Homo sapiens: one gene and its partners. The protein of the gene in region 2 purifies or fractionates together with the protein of the main gene of each other region. This does not show direct contact. Each region holds a gene or a part of one and is shown on either strand. Other genes may lie near its edges.

What was found.
Region 1: the proteins of NTSR1 (region 2) and GPR89A purify together in Homo sapiens (affinity purification with mass spectrometry, with the first as the bait; one large-scale study listed by BioGRID). This does not show direct contact.
Region 3: the proteins of NTSR1 (region 2) and ATP12A purify together in Homo sapiens (affinity purification with mass spectrometry; one large-scale study listed by BioGRID and IntAct). This does not show direct contact.
Region 4: the proteins of NTSR1 (region 2) and SLC30A5 purify together in Homo sapiens (affinity purification with mass spectrometry; one large-scale study listed by BioGRID and IntAct). This does not show direct contact.

Annotation. Positions count from the first base shown.
Region 1 is NC_000001.11:145,606,378-145,611,562, forward strand, and holds the start of GPR89A (Golgi pH regulator A), read left to right. Parts: upstream 1-1,610; 5' UTR 1,611-1,756; coding exon 1,757-1,798; intron 1,799-2,240; exon of another isoform or gene 2,241-2,298; intron 2,299-5,185. UniProt on the Homo sapiens protein: Voltage-gated channel that enables the transfer of anions such as iodide, chloride, bromide and fluoride which may function in counter-ion conductance and participates in Golgi acidification.
Region 2 is NC_000020.11:62,756,947-62,761,585, forward strand, and holds part of NTSR1 (neurotensin receptor type 1), read left to right. Parts: intron 1-1,319; coding exon 1,320-1,410; intron 1,411-3,071; coding exon 3,072-3,321; 3' UTR 3,322-4,639. UniProt on the Homo sapiens protein: G-protein coupled receptor for the tridecapeptide neurotensin (NTS). Signaling is effected via G proteins that activate a phosphatidylinositol-calcium second messenger system.
Region 3 is NC_000013.11:24,690,044-24,694,682, forward strand, and holds part of ATP12A (potassium-transporting ATPase alpha chain 2), read left to right. Parts: intron 1-294; coding exon 295-429; intron 430-560; coding exon 561-678; intron 679-920; coding exon of another isoform or gene 921-938; coding exon 939-1,207; intron 1,208-2,385; coding exon 2,386-2,584; intron 2,585-2,743; coding exon 2,744-2,853; intron 2,854-4,400; coding exon 4,401-4,535; intron 4,536-4,639. UniProt on the Homo sapiens protein: The catalytic subunit of a H(+)/K(+) ATPase and/or Na(+)/K(+) ATPase pump which transports K(+) ions in exchange for Na(+) and/or H(+) ions across the apical membrane of epithelial cells.
Region 4 is NC_000005.10:69,100,150-69,104,788, reverse strand, and holds part of SLC30A5 (proton-coupled zinc antiporter SLC30A5), read right to left. Parts: intron 3,983-4,639; coding exon 3,860-3,982; intron 1,728-3,859; coding exon 1,661-1,727; intron 828-1,660; coding exon of another isoform or gene 744-827; exon of another isoform or gene 159-743; coding exon 73-158; exon of another isoform or gene 49-72; intron 1-48. UniProt on the Homo sapiens protein: Together with SLC30A6 forms a functional proton-coupled zinc ion antiporter mediating zinc entry into the lumen of organelles along the secretory pathway.

The DNA.
Region 1 (5,185 bases), on a different chromosome or scaffold from region 2:
CTTGCCTTGATAGTCTCTTTCAGCACTCTGCACTCTACACACTCTTGAATGTCAGTTAGGTGCTGTTATGTGGGAATCTACCTGCTTACCTAATAGATATAGCCTGGACACAAAGTTCTCTGGTTTATGACACTCCCATTGTACAGCTGCCTCCATAGCTCCTTGAAATTCTGGATCAGGGATTGGACATCTGACAGGTAGTTTTGACTGCTTGGTATCACAGAGTTCAATCCAACAAAAGGAAGACATGTTCCCTTGTGTATAATGAATCTGCAGATCACTTATTCAAACTATAGTAGTCTGAACTCAGATGCTGGATGTCAGGTCCCCTCAGGATTGTCTTCCTGCGTCTTGACTGCAGCCACTCCTACACAGGGTGATTTCCTGGGCTGGAGCCAGTTTGCAGGACTATGAGACTATATAGACTACAAAGCCTAGCTAGGCCCCAGGTCGGCGGCAGAGTAAGCCCCACAGCAATGCGTTAAGCCTTCATGAAATGAGTGTTGAATGAATGAGGTAGTGATTCAGTGTATATTTGATCCACTGCAATAGGTGGGAAGGGGGCAGAGGCAGCTACTTCCTAAAATAACCCTTCTTCAGACTCTTAAAGAACTGATCCTTGTTTTGAATTAAAATCTATCTTCATTTAACTTCCAGTCCTTTGCCCTACAGATAATTCGTAGCGCCACATCAGTTCTACCCATTCTTTCACATGAAGACAGATGTCATGTTCTGAGTCATCTTTCTTCGCCTCCTTCCAGCAGCCCTTATCTGGTGGCTCACATTTGAGCGAGCTCCAATATGTCTCTGTAGAATCTCTCTCTTCTTTTTTCTTTTCTTTTTTTTTTTTTTTGAGATGGAGTTTCGCTCTTGTTGCCCAGGCTGGAGTGCAATGGCGCGATCTCGGCTCACCGCAACCTCCCCTCCCGGGTTCAAGCGATTCTCCTGCCTCAGCCTCCCTAGTAGTTGGGATTACAGGCATGCACCACCACGCCCGGCTAATTTTGTATTTTTAGTAGAGACAGGGTTTCTCCATGCTTGTCAGGCTGGTTTTGAACTTGCGACCTCAGGTGATCCGCCCGCCTTGGTCTCCCCAGGTGCTGGGATTACAGGCGTGAGCCGGCCCGGCCTGTAAAATCTCTTCAAAGTGTGGTACATGGAGTGCAGTACTCCACCTGTGGCCTGACTGATATGCAGTACAATATTATCACTAAATTGCTACAGACAGTGTGCTTTTCATTGTTGTCACAGAAATGTATTTGGTTAGTTATATTTGTTCATATCTCATCTGACTTTCCAGTCTTCCCTCACTTTGTACAGTCATATTTGCCGAGTCAAGTAAAAGTTATAACATTTAGGACACAATGCCCGACTTACTATAATTACCATTATTATCTTAGGATCATTACAAAACAGAATTACCACTTAGCTCTCAGGCCCTACCTCCTTCAGCCTCAGAAACGTTAACGCTACCTTGCATTGCTGCTTTTAGCACCGCCCCTAATAAGCCCCGCCCCTGGGGCCTCCGCGGCGGGAGCCTAGCGTCCGCCCCACCCACCCCGAGCCCGAGGCGGGGCTGTGGATGTAGACGCTGATTGGCTGACTGGGGCGCAGCTTGATGGCGTCGGGCTGGAGAGCCGCAGTCCCGGCTGCAGCACCTGGGAGAAGGCAGACCGTGTGAGGGGGCCTGTGGCCCCAGCGTGCTGTGGCCTCGGGGAGTGGGAAGTGGAGGCAGGAGCCTTCCTTACACTTCGCCATGAGTTTCCTCATCGACTCCAGCATCATGATTACCTCCCAGGTGAGTCACCGCCTCCCGCCCCGACACCCGTCCGCCTCCCTTTACCGAATCGCCCTCTCCGGTCCTCCGCGGTGCGGGCTGGTCCGGGGTCTCGCTCCTCTCTTACGCGTCCTGCGCTAGTCACTCTGGCACCCAGAGAGGGTGTGCGATTTGCTGCGGCCGGTTCCCTCAGCCCCGGCTGTCAGGAGACTGGCCTGCGGCCGTCCGCGTCCCCACCCGGCATCCATCCCCGGAATTTCGGTCCACTTTTGGAAGCGGTCCGCCGACCTCCAGGCTAAGAGCCGGCGCCGCCAGCTAAGGCGGCGGTTCTAGGAGCTCCTCGAAGCTTCCGGGCTGCGCCAACTGATCCTGGACTGGGGAAGCCTGTGTGGTTCTGGGCGCGCGGTGTGCGACGCGCCAATACTGGATACTGAGGACACGTCAGTGCAGGCTTTGCTGTTAGATGTCAAATCCTGAATCCGGGTGTGGAGAAATTTGCTGCTTCAAAGTATCAGTATAAGGTAATACCTGTGCTTGAAAGTATAAGGTTTCGTTTTTGCACTGACACCTCGTCCTTTATCCTCTGCTTAGTTACCCACCTTTTCCGGATGTTTTTCTGACCCTCATTTCTTCTCCATTGGCCACCTTCATTTGTTTGTACAGTCAACAAACATTTATCGACCATTATATAAAGCTCTGAGCGTAAAAACATGTAAGACACTGTCTCTGCTCAATAGAAGTTTCGTCTAGTTAGCCTCTTGCTTTTACCATGTAATCTATTGTTAATTATTGTTTCTTCCTAGCATTCATCATAGCACTGGCATCATTTATGTCTGTGTTTCTGATTTTGTTTTTTGAGATCCTGCCTTGTTCATAGCTGTATCCCCACTTCCAAGTGCAGGCATTCAATAAATAATTGTTGGCCAATATTTGTGAAGCTCAGACTGCCTGTTGACCTTCTTCCCCCCATCTTTCCAATAAAGATTTTGTGTGTGTGTGGTTGTTTTTACTTGTTCTTTCTCTCAAACGGCAAATAACAGAAGCAGTTACCTTTGGGGGCTTAAAGTGAACTAAATTTGTGTTCTTTGATTCCGTTTTTGTATTGCTTCATCCTAATACTCGTCTCCGTAGAGCGGAGCATTGTCCTTTTCTCTTCAAAAACTTGTTTACAATATTTAAGAAAATAAGAAAGAAGGAAAAGCCATCCATAATCCTACCACTCTAATGCAATAGTTTTTTCATTTTTAAAATTTACCACCTTTTCTATAGTTTTCATAAGTATTGTTTTTATTGGCTGCATAATATTCAAATGTATTAATGTAAAAAAACCTAGACATGTAACTCTTCTGCTTAAAACCTTTCTAAGACTACCCAGTGCCCTTGGTGACAACTCAGGGTTATTTTTAGCCTTAGTACCAATTTAAGAAAAATAACAATATTTAATTAGCTTTTCTTTTCATTTAGAATAAAGATAAGAATGTCAGTAGAAAATTGGCTTTGCATTGCAGCCTCTACGATTTTTAGCATGGATATAATTGATACGTTGAACCGAGGAAGTGGCTTTCTAATTTTGTATGCCTTATAATCATAGACTTTCACTTCACACATGCATCCACATGCAGTAATTAATTGTTAAACCTGGTTTTTACAAATGTGGAAGAAAGACCCAAAGATTCCTTTGCATGGAATGTTCTCTGTTCAGATATTTATGTGGCTACTTTATCATCCTTTCGGTATTAATAAAAATGTCGCTTTAGGAAGGTCTTACCTGACACCCTGCCCACAACCAAAGTAGCTTTCCATTTCGGCTGCCTTCTTCCTCATTTCCATGTTTTATTTTCTTCTTGGCATTTATTACTATGGTTCATTTGTATATTCATGTGTTTGTTATCTGTCCATGAGGTCCAAGATACTGTCTGTCTTGTTCTCTCCTGTATTCACCAGCATCTAGATCAGTTGCGGGCACATAGTAGAGTTGTAGTGAATATTTGTTTAATAAAAAGCACCTCTCTAGAGAGGTGTGGTTACCTTGGAAACACCACCATTGCCCCCTGCGCCCCTCCCTGCTCATTTTTTCTGTTTTGTATTAACTGAAAGGTTTATTTGAAATGAAATCTGAAATCAGAGGTCACGTATTCAATCTTGCTCACCACGGCACAGGATGAAGTTCAAACTCCTTTACATGGCTTTTCAGGTCCCTTATTGATGGGACCCTGGCTCTTCTCTCTTCAGCTGTGGCTCCAATTTATTCTTTAGACTTCCTGAACTTCTTTTAGTTCCCTAACCTGGCGATGCTATGGTGCCTCCAGATTTCCACACAGTGTGTTTTCTCTTTCTGGGCCTTTTCCTCATATCCCTCCCCTTCTTTAAGCCTTCAGATCTCAAGTTGAACATCCAAGAAGCTTCCCCTAGACTGGACTAGATGTCCCTATACCTACTGCCATAGTACCCTTCACCTACTTCCCCTGTAACAACACTACCACATTGTTTGGTAATTACTTGTTTATCTCCTCCATAGATTATAAACTCCTTGAGAGTAGCATTCATGCTCTCATTTGCCATTCTATCCCTTGGACCTGGCACATATTAGGCACTAATAAATATTTGTTAAATGATTAAAAGGGTGAATAAATGATCCAAGAAAGGTGTCTTTTATAGTTAATTCTTTAATAACTGTCCTGCTGATGGCCATCTTTTTTTTTTAACAGTAGCTAATTTTCAACCCAGAAGTCACTTTTTTAAAAGCAACTGTTAACTAACTCATGTTTTGAGCCCTCTATACCGTCATAAGACTTATCAGTTCCAGAGTACACTCTTAAGTCCTAAGGTCAAGACTCTGTACAATTCTGAAAGTATCAAGTCTCATTTTTAATAAGAAGCTATACGCCTTCCATTTTATTTGCAAAGCTATTTGAAATTGCATTTTGCTTCTGCTTTCTTTTTGGATCCTCTATAATCTTGCCAGAATTTGTGTTTACTTGGATGTAAATGAATTCTCCAGCTACTTGTGTGTGTGTGTGTGTGTGTAGTTTAAGTCTTTTTTTTTTTTTCAACTTTTATTTTATTTTAGATTTGGTACTTGTGCCGGGTATATTGTGGGAGCTCAGGTTTGGGGTACAAATGATCCGGTCACCCAGGTACTGAGCATAGTACTCAATAATTAGTTTTTCAACCCTTCCCCCTTCTCCCCTCCCCTGCCCCCAAGTAGTCTCCAGTTTCTGTTTTTGCCATCTTTATGTTGGTGAGTACCCAATATTTAGCTCCCACTTAGAAGTGAGAACATGTGGTATTTGGTTTTCTGTTCTTGCATTAATTTGCTTAGGATGATGGCCTCTAGCTGCATCTATGTTGCTGCAAAGGACATAATTTTGTTCTGAAAGTCTTTTTAAGCTTTTCTTTTTCAATGTG
Region 2 (4,639 bases):
CATGTTGAGTTTTAGGAGTTATACTCTCAAGGTTAACTCATTATCAGATGTGATTTGCAAATATTTTCTCCTTTTTTGTGAGCTGACTTCCACTCTCCTGATGGCATCCTTTGATACACAGAAATTCAGTGTTTATGTTGTTCAATTTATCTACTTTTTTCTTTTGTGGCCTGTGCTTTTGGTGTCATACCCAAGAAATCATTGCCAAAATCAATGTTGTAAAGTAATTATGTTTTCTCCTAGGAGTTTTATGGTTTTAGTTCTTATGTTCAGGTCTTTAATCCACTTCAAGTCCATTTTTGTATATGGTGTGAGGGGAGGATCCACCTTCATACAAGTGGATGTCCCGTTTTCCTAACACCCTTTGTTGAATAGACTGTCCTTTCCCCACTGAATGGTCTTGGTGAAGATCACTTGACCATAAAGGTAAGGGTTCGTTTCTGAGATTTCTAGTCTATTCCCTTGGTCTACGTGTCTATCTTTATGCCAGCACCACACTGTAACTTTGTAGTAAGTTTTGAAATCAAGAAGTGTAAGACCTCCAACTTTATTTTCTTACAAGATTGTTTTGGCTGTCCGGGATCCTTTGAGATTTCATATGAATTTTAGCACAGATTTTTCTATTTCTGCCAAAAGCATTCTTGAAATTTGATACGGATTGCATTGAATCTGTAGAGTGCTTTGGGTAGTACTGACACCTTAACAATATTAAATCTTCCAATCCATGAACATGGGATGTCTCCCTGCATCTCCCTCAGACCACGTGTCTCCTTCTCTGAGGCCATATCTCTGTGTCTCTAAGCCCATGTCTCTGAGCCAGTGTCTACCTCCCTCAGCCCATGTCTCTCCCTCTCTGAGCCTGTGTCCTGTCTCTGAGCCTGTGTCCTGTCTCTGAGCTTATGCTCCCTCCCCAAGCCCACGTCTCTCCCTCTCTGAGCTTGTGTCTGGTCTCTGAGCCCATGTCTCCCCCACTGAGCCCACGCCTCTGTGCCTCAGGTGCAGTGGGTCTCTGAGCCCACGCCTCTGTGCCTCAGGTGCAGTGGGTCTCTGAGCCCACGTCTCTGTGCCTCAGGTGCAGTGGGTCTCTGAGCCCATGTCCTGTCTCTGAGCCCACGTCTCTGTGCCTCAGGTGCAGTGGGTCTCTGAGCCCATGTCTCTGTGCCTCAGGTGCAGTGGGTCTCTGAGCCCACGTCTCTGTGCCTCAGGTGCAGTGGGTCTCTGAGCCCACATCTGTGTGCCTCAGGTGCAGTGGGTCTCTGAGCCCACGCCTCTGTGCCTCAGGTGCAGTGGGTCTCTGAGCCCACGTCTCTGTGCCTCAGGTGCAGTGGTCATCGCCTTTGTGGTCTGCTGGCTGCCCTACCACGTGCGGCGCCTCATGTTCTGCTACATCTCGGATGAGCAGTGGACTCCGTGAGTACCGGGAACCAGGAAGTTGGGTGCTGGACAAGTAAGTGCTCCCAAAACAGATGGTGGGTGTGGCAGGCACTGCTGAGGGGATCCACTCAGGGCAGGGGTGTGGTGAGTCCCCCGGCGACCCCCTGGGCAGGGTTGTGCTGTGACTGGGGCCGGGAGAAGGCCATGGAGGGACAGGTTCAAGGCAGGGGCTATTCAGGCCAGACTGGTGCAGAGAAAGAAAGTTGGTCCTAAGAGAGATGGCCCAGGCAGTTTCCCGAAGGTGAAAGAGAGACATCCCTGGCTCTGCTGGGGACATGGTGGGGGTGTCACCTCCTCATATGGCAGCTGTCAGAGCCCCAAGGCCACCCAGGTTGGACCCACAGGGCTCAGCCTGGAGTTATACTCAGGGCTGTGACTTATCGCAGCAAGAGCACCAATACTGACAAAGCTTTGCTTATACAGCAAAGTCAGCAAAGGGAAAAGACACATGGAGTGGGGTCAGCGGAAGACCAGATGCAGCTTCCAGGGCCCCCTCCCAGAGGAGCCTCACAGGACGATATGGGGGCCGATCACAGGGGCACCCACTGCCTGGCAAAACCCCTACTGTTTGCACCAACAGTTCAGGGGCAGGGAGCCCTTCTCACCCAAAAATGGCAGAGCCTTCCCAAAATCCAAGGCCCCAGGCACCAGCCAGAGGCCAGCCTTGCCAGCTGGCCATCCTGAGATGGCAGCTTGGGGCCCACTTGTGAACCCTTTTCTGTGCAGTGGGGCTGCCAGATCCCAGAATAAAAGGTTCCTTCCAGTGACAACCACCAGGGAGGGCGCACCTACGACCAATGAGGAGGAGAAGGCACGGGGAACAGAGTGTGGCCCCTGCAAAAGCTTCTGAAACTCAGGGCTGACTGGTAGTAATTGAGCTGCCTGGTGAGGGAGTGAGATCACTGTGGGGGGAGGCAACAAGCTGAGGGCAAGGTGTGTGGCTGCTGGGGAGGTGTGGAGGGGGTTACTGCCCTGGCTGTTTGGTTAGGCCGGGACCAGCCAAGCCCTGGACCCTTGGATGCACAGAGCTGCGAAGGGCAATGCAGGCAGCTGCAAGGAGAGGCAGGGATGGACAAGCAGAGCCCACGCTCCACCTAAAGAAGCCCAGGCTGGGTGGGACACGGTGGCTCACGCCTGTAATCCCAGCACTTTGGGAGGCTGAGGTGGGTGGATCACGAGGTCAGGAGATCGAGACCATCCTGGCTAACACGGTGAAACCCCGTCTCTACCAAAAATACAAAAAATTAGCCGGGCGTGGTGGGGGGGTCCCTGTAGTCCCAGCTACTCGGGAGGCTGAGGCAGGAGAATGGTGTGAACCCGGGAGGTGGAGCTTGCAGTGAGCCGAGATCGCGCCACTGTACTCCAGCCTGGGAGACAGAGCGAGACTCCGTCTCAAAAAAAAAAAAAAAGCAGCAGCAGCCCAGGCTGGGCGGGAGCACGACGAGAACTTGCAGCTGCTCAGGAGAAGCCAGACCCTGGAGCTTGTTATGAAATGTCCCCAAACAACCATTCTCAAGGGGTGTTTTAATTAGCGTCTGAGCCACCACGTCCCTCAGCCGCTGTGGCCCCGGCTGTCACCCTGCCTTGGGGCCCTCAAGAGTTCTCTCTGGGATCTGAGCGCCTCTCTCTCCCCGCAGGTTCCTCTATGACTTCTACCACTACTTCTACATGGTGACCAACGCACTCTTCTACGTCAGCTCCACCATCAACCCCATCCTGTACAACCTCGTCTCTGCCAACTTCCGCCACATCTTCCTGGCCACACTGGCCTGCCTCTGCCCGGTGTGGCGGCGCAGGAGGAAGAGGCCAGCCTTCTCGAGGAAGGCCGACAGCGTGTCCAGCAACCACACCCTCTCCAGCAATGCCACCCGCGAGACGCTGTACTAGGCTGTGCGCCCCGGAACGTGTCCAGGAGGAGCCTGGCCATGGGTCCTTGCCCCCGACAGACAGAGCAGCCCCCACCCGGGAGCCTTGATGGGGGTCAGGCAGAGGCCAGCCTGCACTGGAGTCTGAGGCCTGGGACCCCCCCCTCCCACCCCCTAACCCATGTTTCTCATTAGTGTCTCCCGGGCCTGTCCCCAACTCCTCCCCACCCCTCCCCCATCTCCTCTTTGAAAGCCAGAACAAGAGAGCGCTCCTCTCCCAGATAGGAAAAGGGCCTCTAACAAGGAGAAATTAGTGTGCGGCAAAAGGCAGTTTTCTTTGTTCTCAGACTAATGGATGGTTCCAGAGAAGGAAATGAAAGGTGCTGGGTGGGGCCGGGCCTCCGGCGGCCCGGCTGCTGTTCCCATGTCCACATCTCTGAGGCCTGCACCCCCTCTGTCTAGCTCGGGGAGTCCAGCCCCAGTCCCGCAGGCTCCGTGGCTTTGGGCCTCACGTGCAGACCCTGCCATGCAGACCCATGCCCCCCTCCCCCAGGCAGCTCCAAGAAAGCTCCCTGACTCGCCCCTTCAGGCCTGGCAAGCTGGGGGCCCATCGCCGTGGGGAGTCCCTCCCACCACCCTCGCCGCAGGCAGCTGCAGCCCCCAGAGGGGACCACAAGCCCAAAAAGGACAAAAATGGGCTGGCCTGGAATGGCCCAGACCCCAGCCTCCCCTCCTCCCTCCCATCCTCACCCAGGCCAAGGCCCAGGGGCTCTGCCAGGACACCACATGGGAGGGGGCTCAGGCCTCAGCCTCAAGATCTTCAGCTGTGGCCTCTCGGGCTCGGCAGAAGGGACGCCGGATCAGGGGCCTGGTCTCCAGCACCTGCCCGAGTGGCCGTGGCCAGGATGGGGTGCGCATTCCGTGTGCTTTGCTTGTGGCTGTGCAGGCTGAGGTCTGGAGCCAGGCCCAGAGCTGGCTTCAGGGTGGGGCCTTGAGAAGGGGAATGTGGGACAGGGGCGATGGTGCCTGGTCTCTGAGTAAGATGCCAGGTCCCAGGAACTCAGGCTTCAGGTGAGAAGGAGCGGTGTGTCCAGGCACCGCTGGCCGGCAGCCCTGGGCTGAGGCACAGACTCATTTGTCACCTTCTGGCGGCGGCAGCCCTGGCCCCGGCCTCCAAGCAGTTGAAAAAGCTGGCGCCTCCTTGGTCTCTAGGATCCAGGCTCCACAGAGCACATGACTAGCCAGGCCCCTGGCTTAAGAAGGTCGCCTAAGCCTAAGAGAAGACAGTCCCAGGAGAAGCTGGCCGGGACCAGCCAGGAGCTGGGAGCCACAGGAAGCAA
Region 3 (4,639 bases), on a different chromosome or scaffold from region 2:
GACTCTTCTGTTCCAAGAACTCTCCATAAGCTCAAGAAAAAGTAGTTCTTAGAGTCTTCAGGCCTCGGGTGAAGCAGTCTTCTGTTTCATTCTTGCTGTTCTGACAGCCTCATGCTCCAGCAGCAATGCTGTGTCCACAGGGCCAGGTGCAGGCTGCATAACAGCATGGACTCAACAGTGAGAGTGATCAGGAAGTTCCAAGGCCTCTGTCCTGGGGTTCGGTGCGGCACAGACTTGGGGGAGGGCCGGTGTCCTTCCAGGGTCTGAGGCATCTGTCATGGTTTTTTTCTGCAGCAAGCTCTCGTCATCCGAGATTCCGAGAAGAAGACCATCCCTTCAGAGCAGCTGGTGGTGGGGGACATTGTGGAGGTCAAAGGAGGAGACCAGATCCCTGCAGACATCAGGGTGCTGTCTTCTCAGGGGTGTCGGGTAAGCGGCAAGGGGTATCCACCCCAAGGACCATGTTCCAAACCTGCTGGCTCTGGGGTCTTTCCCAGCATCAGTATAAGAGGCAGGGAATGAGGTACCCAGCTGTGAACCACCTTCAACATTTCTTCTAGGTGGATAACTCATCTCTCACGGGGGAGTCTGAGCCCCAGCCCCGCTCCTCTGAGTTTACCCATGAAAACCCCCTGGAAACAAAGAACATCTGCTTCTATTCCACAACGTGTCTGGAAGGTAAAAGGCCTCTGGCTCTCAGCCCACATGTCCACCTGTGTCCTTTCTCCCTCCTGGGCTCTCAGGTCTGTCCTTTGCCACACCCCGTTACAAAGCTCATCCCAGAGGAAGCATGGAACTGAAGGGCCTAGAGGACGATGCTTGGCCTTGGGAATGTGGTGTGCCTATCGATTGTGCCAGCCCCCAGAGAGGGCTGCAAGCTGGCTGCACACCCCTCCTGGCTGAGGACCCCTGGAATAAAGCATCTACTTCCCCTGTAGGCACTGTCACCGGCATGGTTATCAACACGGGTGACCGCACCATCATTGGCCATATTGCCTCATTGGCCTCAGGAGTTGGAAATGAGAAGACGCCCATTGCCATTGAGATCGAGCACTTTGTTCACATTGTGGCAGGAGTGGCTGTCTCCATCGGCATCCTTTTCTTCATCATCGCTGTGTCCCTGAAGTATCAAGTCCTGGACTCCATCATCTTCCTCATTGGCATCATTGTGGCCAATGTGCCCGAGGGCCTCCTGGCCACTGTCACTGTGAGTCCATGCTGTTAGACAGCCTGCACCTGGCCCTGTGGACACAGCACTGGTGCTGGGGAGGCGCCCACACAAACTGCAATCTCCCCCAAGTCCAGAGCACCACGCCCTCCCCGCCAGCGACAACCCTGGAACATTCTGCATAGACTGTTCCTTACAGAGACAAAAAATTTGTCATATTTTCAATATTTGACTGCGTTTTCCTTGAAAACGTTATGCTTTCAATCTGCAATTCACACAGCTTACTCTGCCCCATAAGATCTAGATAAGACAGACTCCACCATTCACAGGTTTTCTAGAAGCTTGATGCCTTCCGCACATTTCTTTGGCAGTTTCTACAACTTAGGCATTTAGGCACATTGCCACACTCCACTTACCTCTCTTACGAAAAAAAAAAATTCCTCCCATTTTTCCTGCCGAGGACTCCAGCCCTTTCCTGGCCAACCCCAGACCCAGCTGTTTGTATGGGCCCATGTCATTCAGTCCCTAGAGAAGAGCCCCCTCCTCCTCAGTCTCTCCTGTGGGGGTCTCAAGGGGTAGGAGAGGAGGGGGTTTATGTTTCCAGTTTTGTGACTACATGATCATTGGCCTGCTATTGTCCTGACCAAAGAAAAGAGAAGAAGTTTTTGAAGTCCAGGTCTCCTCTGACTCCAGGAGATAGTAATTTGGGGAAATTGGAGCCAAAAGAACCCTTTGAGATCTAGGGGTTTAAAAGAATCTTTAAAATATGGAGCTTTTAAAATGAAACAACATAAAGGCTGCTGAATTCCCCAAAGCAACAAGTGTGTCCTTTGGGACAACTCTTTGGCATGCACTGGTCAGTCTCTCTTACACACTCCTGCTTAGGGATCACAGGAGGCGTCGTGATTGTACGTGAACACGAGCCACAGCAGCGTGTCCGTGTTTGCTGCCCGTGGGTCCCTTGTTTTCTTCAAGTCATGAAGGAACAAGAAAAGCATCTCATATTTAATCTTTAAAAAAGGATTGTGGCATAGAGGGCTCTTGGCGGCGTATAAGCCACCAGGTCAGCTTAGCTGCGCTGACAACCACACCTCTCCCCTAAAACTAGTCCAGCTCTCTCCTAAAATTCAATCACAGCTCACATTGGCTATTTCTGTATTATTGGACCTGAGTTCAAATGAGGATTTTTCCCAAAGCGTCCTTCCCTCTCCTGCTAGGTGACCCTGTCGCTGACAGCAAAACGGATGGCCAAGAAGAACTGCCTGGTGAAGAACCTGGAGGCTGTGGAGACCCTCGGCTCCACCTCCATCATCTGCTCGGACAAGACTGGGACACTGACCCAGAACAGGATGACAGTGGCCCATCTGTGGTTCGACAATCAGATCTTTGTGGCTGACACCAGTGAGGACCATTCAAGTAAGTCTTATGGAGAGCTCGGTCTGGCCAAAGCTGTGGACTCCATCCTGGGGCTGAGCTGAGCACACAGCAGGGTCTGCAGCCAGAGGATTGCTGGACAGTGACTCATGGACGGCCAGCCCAACCCACAGCAGCCACTGTTCTTTCTCTGTCTTCCAGACCAAGTCTTTGACCAAAGCTCTAGGACTTGGGCCTCCTTATCCAAGATAATAACATTGTGTAACCGAGCAGAGTTCAAGCCAGGACAGGAAAATGTCCCCATCATGAAGGTAATGCTTCTGCAGCACTTGGTCTTAAATCACAGCCAGTTTGTAGTCACTTGCTGAGGTCTGATTGGGTGCTTGATTTCATCTCTCCAGTTGCTTAAAGTTTGTTCAGTGCTTGCAAGAGCAAGTCAGACTCACAAGACATCCAGAAATTTTTCTTTATGCACACTAGCTTTGAGAATACAAAGATGCTTAAAAGGTTTCAGAATATTGCTTTAGCGTCTTCAGAAAATTCTGGAAATGAATGCACTTCTAAGTTACTTTCCTGACTTTTCTGCCAGCTAAGTGGATATAATCAAAGTTCCTTTTAATATACACACCATTCATGGAAATTTAAAGTGTGATTGAATAAAAATAAAAGGACTCCTGTTAACTAGAATATGGCTGCAGACAAAGCTCTAAGGGGTCCTGGAATATCGGAACATACAATAAACTCTCCCCCTCCCTCCCTCTCCTCCTTCCCTTCCTCCCTTTTCCTCTCCATCTCAATGAGTCACTGAATCCCTGTTCTCCTGGCTTTTCTATTTGCCATCTGTTTCCTTCCCTGACTCTTTTTCTTTCTTATTTTTTTGTTTGTTTGTTTGCTTTTCTCTCCGTCAGACAGCTCATGAATGCTCTTTTTGGCCAATTGCTTCTTTGTCGATATCTTCCAAATCTTTATGTCCAGCTCTAATTTCTTACCTCAACTCCAACCCGAATCTCTGGCTGGCTGTGTGCTTCCGCTAGGAAGTTGCACAAATCATGCTTGTTAACTTCCACCCGTACCCAGCCTGGCTGCACATCAGTGCCTTGCCGCAATTTTCTAATTGTCTATGATATAACCATTCTATTTGTCATTGGAACAGAATATTTGGAAGTCATCTTTGACTTTATCCTTTCCTTATATCCAGTAAGCCACCAAGTTCTATCATTCTTGCTTCAAAATATACATAACTTTAGTATTTGTCAGCAGTACCTTGCATCTAAATAGCCGATTACCGGCTGATTGGAATTAAACCTCTTTGATTCCGGTTTATCCCTCCTGGGGTCTTTCTCGAATGCCACTAATTTCCCTTAATGGTGCTTTTATAGTCACTTAACTTTGCTCAAAATCTCTCCGTACTTCCCTGTTTTCTGCTTCTCAAGTCTAGACCTCAGGCTACCTTTCAGGGCCCTCCAGGTCTTGCCACACCCTCCACATCCGCTTGTACCTTGAACACTCACGGACGAGCCTGCCCCTCATGCCCCTGCACCCGCATCCTGGTTTCTGGAAGGCTTTCTTCTCTGTGTATCGGTAACCCACCTATCTATCAAGATCTAGTTCGTAGCTGCTTTTTTCCACGAAATCTTCAGTCCTCGCAGAGGTCCAGCTTCTCCAAACATCCCTAATGCCAGTAGGTGGCACTGTTGTTTACACGCTTACCACGGTCTTGCGGCCCTCCCTGATCACGTGATAATGTCTCTCCAGCTAGGTGGTAATGGGATCAGGAGGGTGTGTTTTGGGTCCTATGCTGAGGGCATGTTGGTTCATTAAATATGTGCTGCAAATATTTTTCTTCTTTGATTCCCAGAAAGCTGTGATTGGAGATGCCTCAGAAACTGCTCTTTTAAAATTCTCAGAGGTCATTTTGGGTGATGTGATGGAAATTAGAAAAAGAAACCGCAAAGTAGCTGAAATCCCTTTTAACTCTACTAATAAATTTCAGGTGAGTTTTTCCTCACAACCGGTAATCTCTGTCATCGGCAGCATGACCTTTCTACTTGCATGCATCCTTTGCTTACCTCATATTTTGAAGGATACCTGGCTTCA
Region 4 (4,639 bases), on a different chromosome or scaffold from region 2:
CACAGTGGAACAAAAATAATATTCAAAATGAAGAAATACAAACACACATTCAAAATATGCATTTTTATTTACCTTAGTGGTCCACAAAGAGTGAGGCCAAAAAACCACAAGAGTGAAATAATACACCCAGCAACTGCATGTTTAAATATTTTGATCCACTATAAATGGAAACAAAAAAATTAAAAATTTCAGTCACATATATTTTGCTATATATCCAAATTTTAAATAAAATACAGAAAGATAATAATAACAAATATTTTAAAGGTGAAATCATTACATATTTTGTAAATAGAAAACATAAGATCCCTTGACTAAGTCTAGATTTCCAAGACAGTATTCTTATTCTGGGCCGGGTGCTGTGGCTCATGCCTGTAATCCTAGCACTTTGTGAGGCCGAGGCAGGCAGATCACCTGAGGTCAGGAGTTCAAGACCAGGCTGGCCAATGTGGTGAATGAAGCCCCGTCTCTACTAAAAATACAAAAATGAGCTGGGTGTGGTGGTGGGTGCCTGTAATTCCAGCTACTCAGGAGGCTGAGGCAGGAGAATCGCTTGAACCCGGGAGGCAGAGGTTGCAGTGAGACAAGATCGTGTCACTGCACTGCAGCCTGGGCGATGGAGCAAGACTCTTTCTCAAAAAAAGAAAGAAAAAAAAAAAGGACAGTATTCTGTTTTCCATTATCTATATTCTTGTCTGCTGGTAGATTTTGAAATCTTTTTCTTCAGAGTACAATTTTATGATTTCTCAGTTTCCCACTAGTTTCCTAGGATCATTTAACTTTTTGTCTTTAAATTCTTTTCTACCAGGAATTTTTAGTGATCCAATTATCTGAAAGGAGAGAAAAAAGTTAAAATGGGGTTTAGACTATTAATCATATTTTAAAAAATGTTCTTGGTCTCTGAAACAGAAGTACTTAAATTCGTCTTTCTAATAAAAAAATTATGACGCAGGTTTGTAAGTCATGGCATAAAGCAAACATGTACTATGGTATAACTGCTGCCCAAAGAAGTGACGATGTGAGATGATTATGCAAAATGTAGGACATTTCTAGTTTGAATCACAGCTGCCTAAAGAGAACAGTGACAATGATCATGAGGGTGTCACATTGTCACAATGATGATGAGGCATCATTCTAAGAACTTCATAAGTATTAATTCATTTTTCCTCACAGTTCTGTTAGGAAGTTACTGTTATCTCCATTTTACAGTGAGCAAATTAAGGTAGAGAGAAATCAAGTAACTTGCCCAAAGTAAGGGTCAGTAAGGAGGACAGACAGAACATGACTTTGTCTGACTCCAGAAATCACACTCTTAACCCCTATGCTTTGTCAGCTTTCCAGTGACATTTGTACTAGGCTCTTGGGCATGCTTTCATGTCCAATTTGTAAATCTTTCAGAATAAGAAGTGTGTACTGAAGAAAACAATTACATGAATGCTTTATAATTTTTTTTACCCTCTTGTTTTTTTTAAAAACATTCCATGATCTTAGTACTTTATGATTTAAAGTCTCCATTCTGAAAAGACAAGAGCAAGTTAACTCTAAAATTGTTCTGTGGCATACTTAAATCATTCATTAAGTACCCATTATAAAAAATAAGCATTGCCTCCTGGCCCACTAAACGAGAAGCTGCTAGGAATAAAAGATTCTGCAAAAATCTTACCTGGTGTTTGGTAATAGTTTTCCCAGAAGAAAATGGCTTTTGAAACAAAACCATAAAAAATGCAGTCCTGTAAATATTGAAACATTAATATATTAATATTAATCCATATTAAACACAAGATACAGTTTTAAGTAAAGACACTTATTTTAAACAAATATGCCAGAACTTGAAGTGTTATCCTCTGAATAAATCATACTGGAGAATTAATTATACTTATTTTAGTAAAACTCCTATTGCAATATTTTGATAACTTTTTTTTTTTTTTTTTTGAGATGGAGTCTTGCTCTGTCACCAGGCTGGAGTGCAGTGGCACGATCTTGGCTCACTGCAACCTCTGCCTCCCGGGTTCAAGCAATTCTCCTGCCTCAGCCTCCTGAGTAGCAGGGATTACAGGTGTGCGCCACCACGCCCAGCCAATTTTTCGTATTTTTAGTAGAGATGGTGTTTCAACACGTTGGCCAGGCTGGTCTCGAACTCCTGACTTCAGGTGATCCGCCTGCCTCGGCCTCCCAAACTGCTGGGAAAACAGGCATGAGCTATCACACCTGGCCGAGAACTCTTATTTTCTAACTGTCTTCAGAACCAGCTAACAAGCCACAAAAATAAAGGAGTCACAATTTTTTTTATATCTTAAAATATCAAAGAAGAGAATTCCTATTTTCTCTAAAATTCAGTAATAAATCTTGAAATAGTATAATGAAAATGAAGAAATTACTAATTATATATCCCTACCTTTCACATTGCCAAAATAGTTATATAAAAATGCACACAACTTGGCCAGGCACAGTGGCTCAAGCTTGTAATCCCAGCACTTTGGGTGGCCGAGGTGGGCGGATCACCTGAGGTCAGGAGTTGGAGACCAGCCTGGCCAACATGGCAAAACCCCGTGTCTACTAAAAAAAATACAAAAATTAGCTGGCCATGGTGGGACACACCTGTAATCCTAGCTACTCAGGAGGCTGAGACAGAATTGCTTGAACCCTGGAGGCAGAGGCTGCAGTGAGTTGAGATTGAGCCACTGCACTCCAGCCTGCGCAACCTAGCCAGACTGTCTCAAAAAAAAAAAAAAAAAAAAAAAGCACGTCACTGGTGCTTAATATTTCCTAGTCAATAATCTCTTTCCCAACTTACCAAAATTATACTTCGAAGAGTGTTGTTTTTGTTTTTTTTTTTAAATGGAGTCTCGCTCTGTTGCCCAGGCTGGAGTGCAGTGGCATGATCTCAGCTCACTGCAACCGCTGCCTCCCAGGTTCAAGCAATCCTCCTGCCTCAGCACCCCTTGTAGCTGGGATTACAGGCACATGCCACCACGCTTGGCTAATTTTTGTATCTTTAGTAGAGACAGGCTTTCGACATGTTGGCCAGGCTGGTCTCCAACTCCTGACCTCAGGCGATCCACCTGCCTCCGCCTCCCAAAGTGCTGGGATTACAGGCATGAGCCACCGTGCCCAGCTGACTCCCAAGAGTCTTTAACAGGTTTTTATTAACACAGAGGGTGGTCACTATCAATCTCAAGGTCCAAGAAATCTTTATTTAGAATTTCTTATATGTAGGCCAGGCGTGGTGGCTCATGCCTGTAATCCCAGCACTTTGGGAGGCTGAGGCGGGCAGATCACAAGGTCAAGAGATTGAGACCATCCTGGCCAACATGGTGAAACCCTGTCTCTATTAAAAATACAAAAATTAGCTGGGCATGGTGGTGAGCGCCTGTAGTCCCAGCTACTCGGGAGGCTGAGGCAGGAGAATCGCTTGAACATAGGAGGCAGTGATCTTGCAGTGAGCCAAGATCACGCCACTGCACTCCAGCCTGGTGACAGAGTGAGACTGTGTCTCAAAAAAGAAAAAAAAAAAGCATTTCGTATAAGTAGAATAAATTAATGTTCACACTACATGAGGACTCTGTACTAAGAAAGGATTATGCAGTGAATAATAATAATAATAAATAGCCCAAAAACTAAATTTGCAAAAATCTCATCAAAGTTTGTGTTTAGGCAAGTGATTAGAGCACAACAATCCGTTTTCTTTTCAGTCTCTTTGTACCTCTAATCTTAAGTATACTCCCAGTTAAAAAAGTTTATCAAATACTTGTCAGGAGGAACAAACAAAATATTGTATGTAAAGTTTCTTAAAGATACTCTGTTAAAACAGGATTTTCAAAGAAATAAAAAATATCAAGAAAAAACCCCCCCCCACACTCACCCAAGTTTTAATATAAAAATGAACTGAACAATGTGAACAGCTTTTAGGAGATCATATGATTCGAAAAGTCCCACAGCCTTCAAAAATTTAGTGAAACATAGTAACACAATATATTTTGTTAATCTGAAAAATAAAAGCAGAAACAATTTTTAGTATCACTGAAATTACAAGCAGCTCATCAATCTGGTTTTTTAAACAAGAGGTCATTACAGAAACCACAGAAATATACATAAACACAAAATGAAACAAAACAGAGTCCCCAAACAACTCACCATCCACGTGATAACTACTGTTGACTTTTTTTTTTTTTTTTTTTTAACTCATAGAGACGGGGTCTCAATGTGTTGCCCAGGCTGGTCTCGAACTCCTTTGGTCAAGCGATCCTCCAGCCTTGGTCTCCCAAAGTGCTAGGATTACAGGTGTGAGCCACCGCGCCCTACTGTTAACATTTTGAGGCCAGGTGCAGTAGCTTGAGACCAGCCTCCGCAACGTGGCAAAAGCCTATCTCTACAAAAAATACAAAGAATTAGCCAGGCATTATGGTGCGTGGTAGCAGTCTCAGCCACTCGGGAGGCTAAGGTGGGAGGTTGAGGTTGCAGTGAGCTGTGTTCGTGTCACTGCACTCCAGCCTGGGCGACAGAGTGAGACCCTGTCTCAAAATACAAACAGGCTGGGCGCTCATGCCTGTAATCCCAGCACTTTGGGAGGCTGAAGTGGGTGGATCACCTGAAGTCTGGAACTCAAGACCAGCCTGGCCAACATGGCGAAAACTCACCTCTA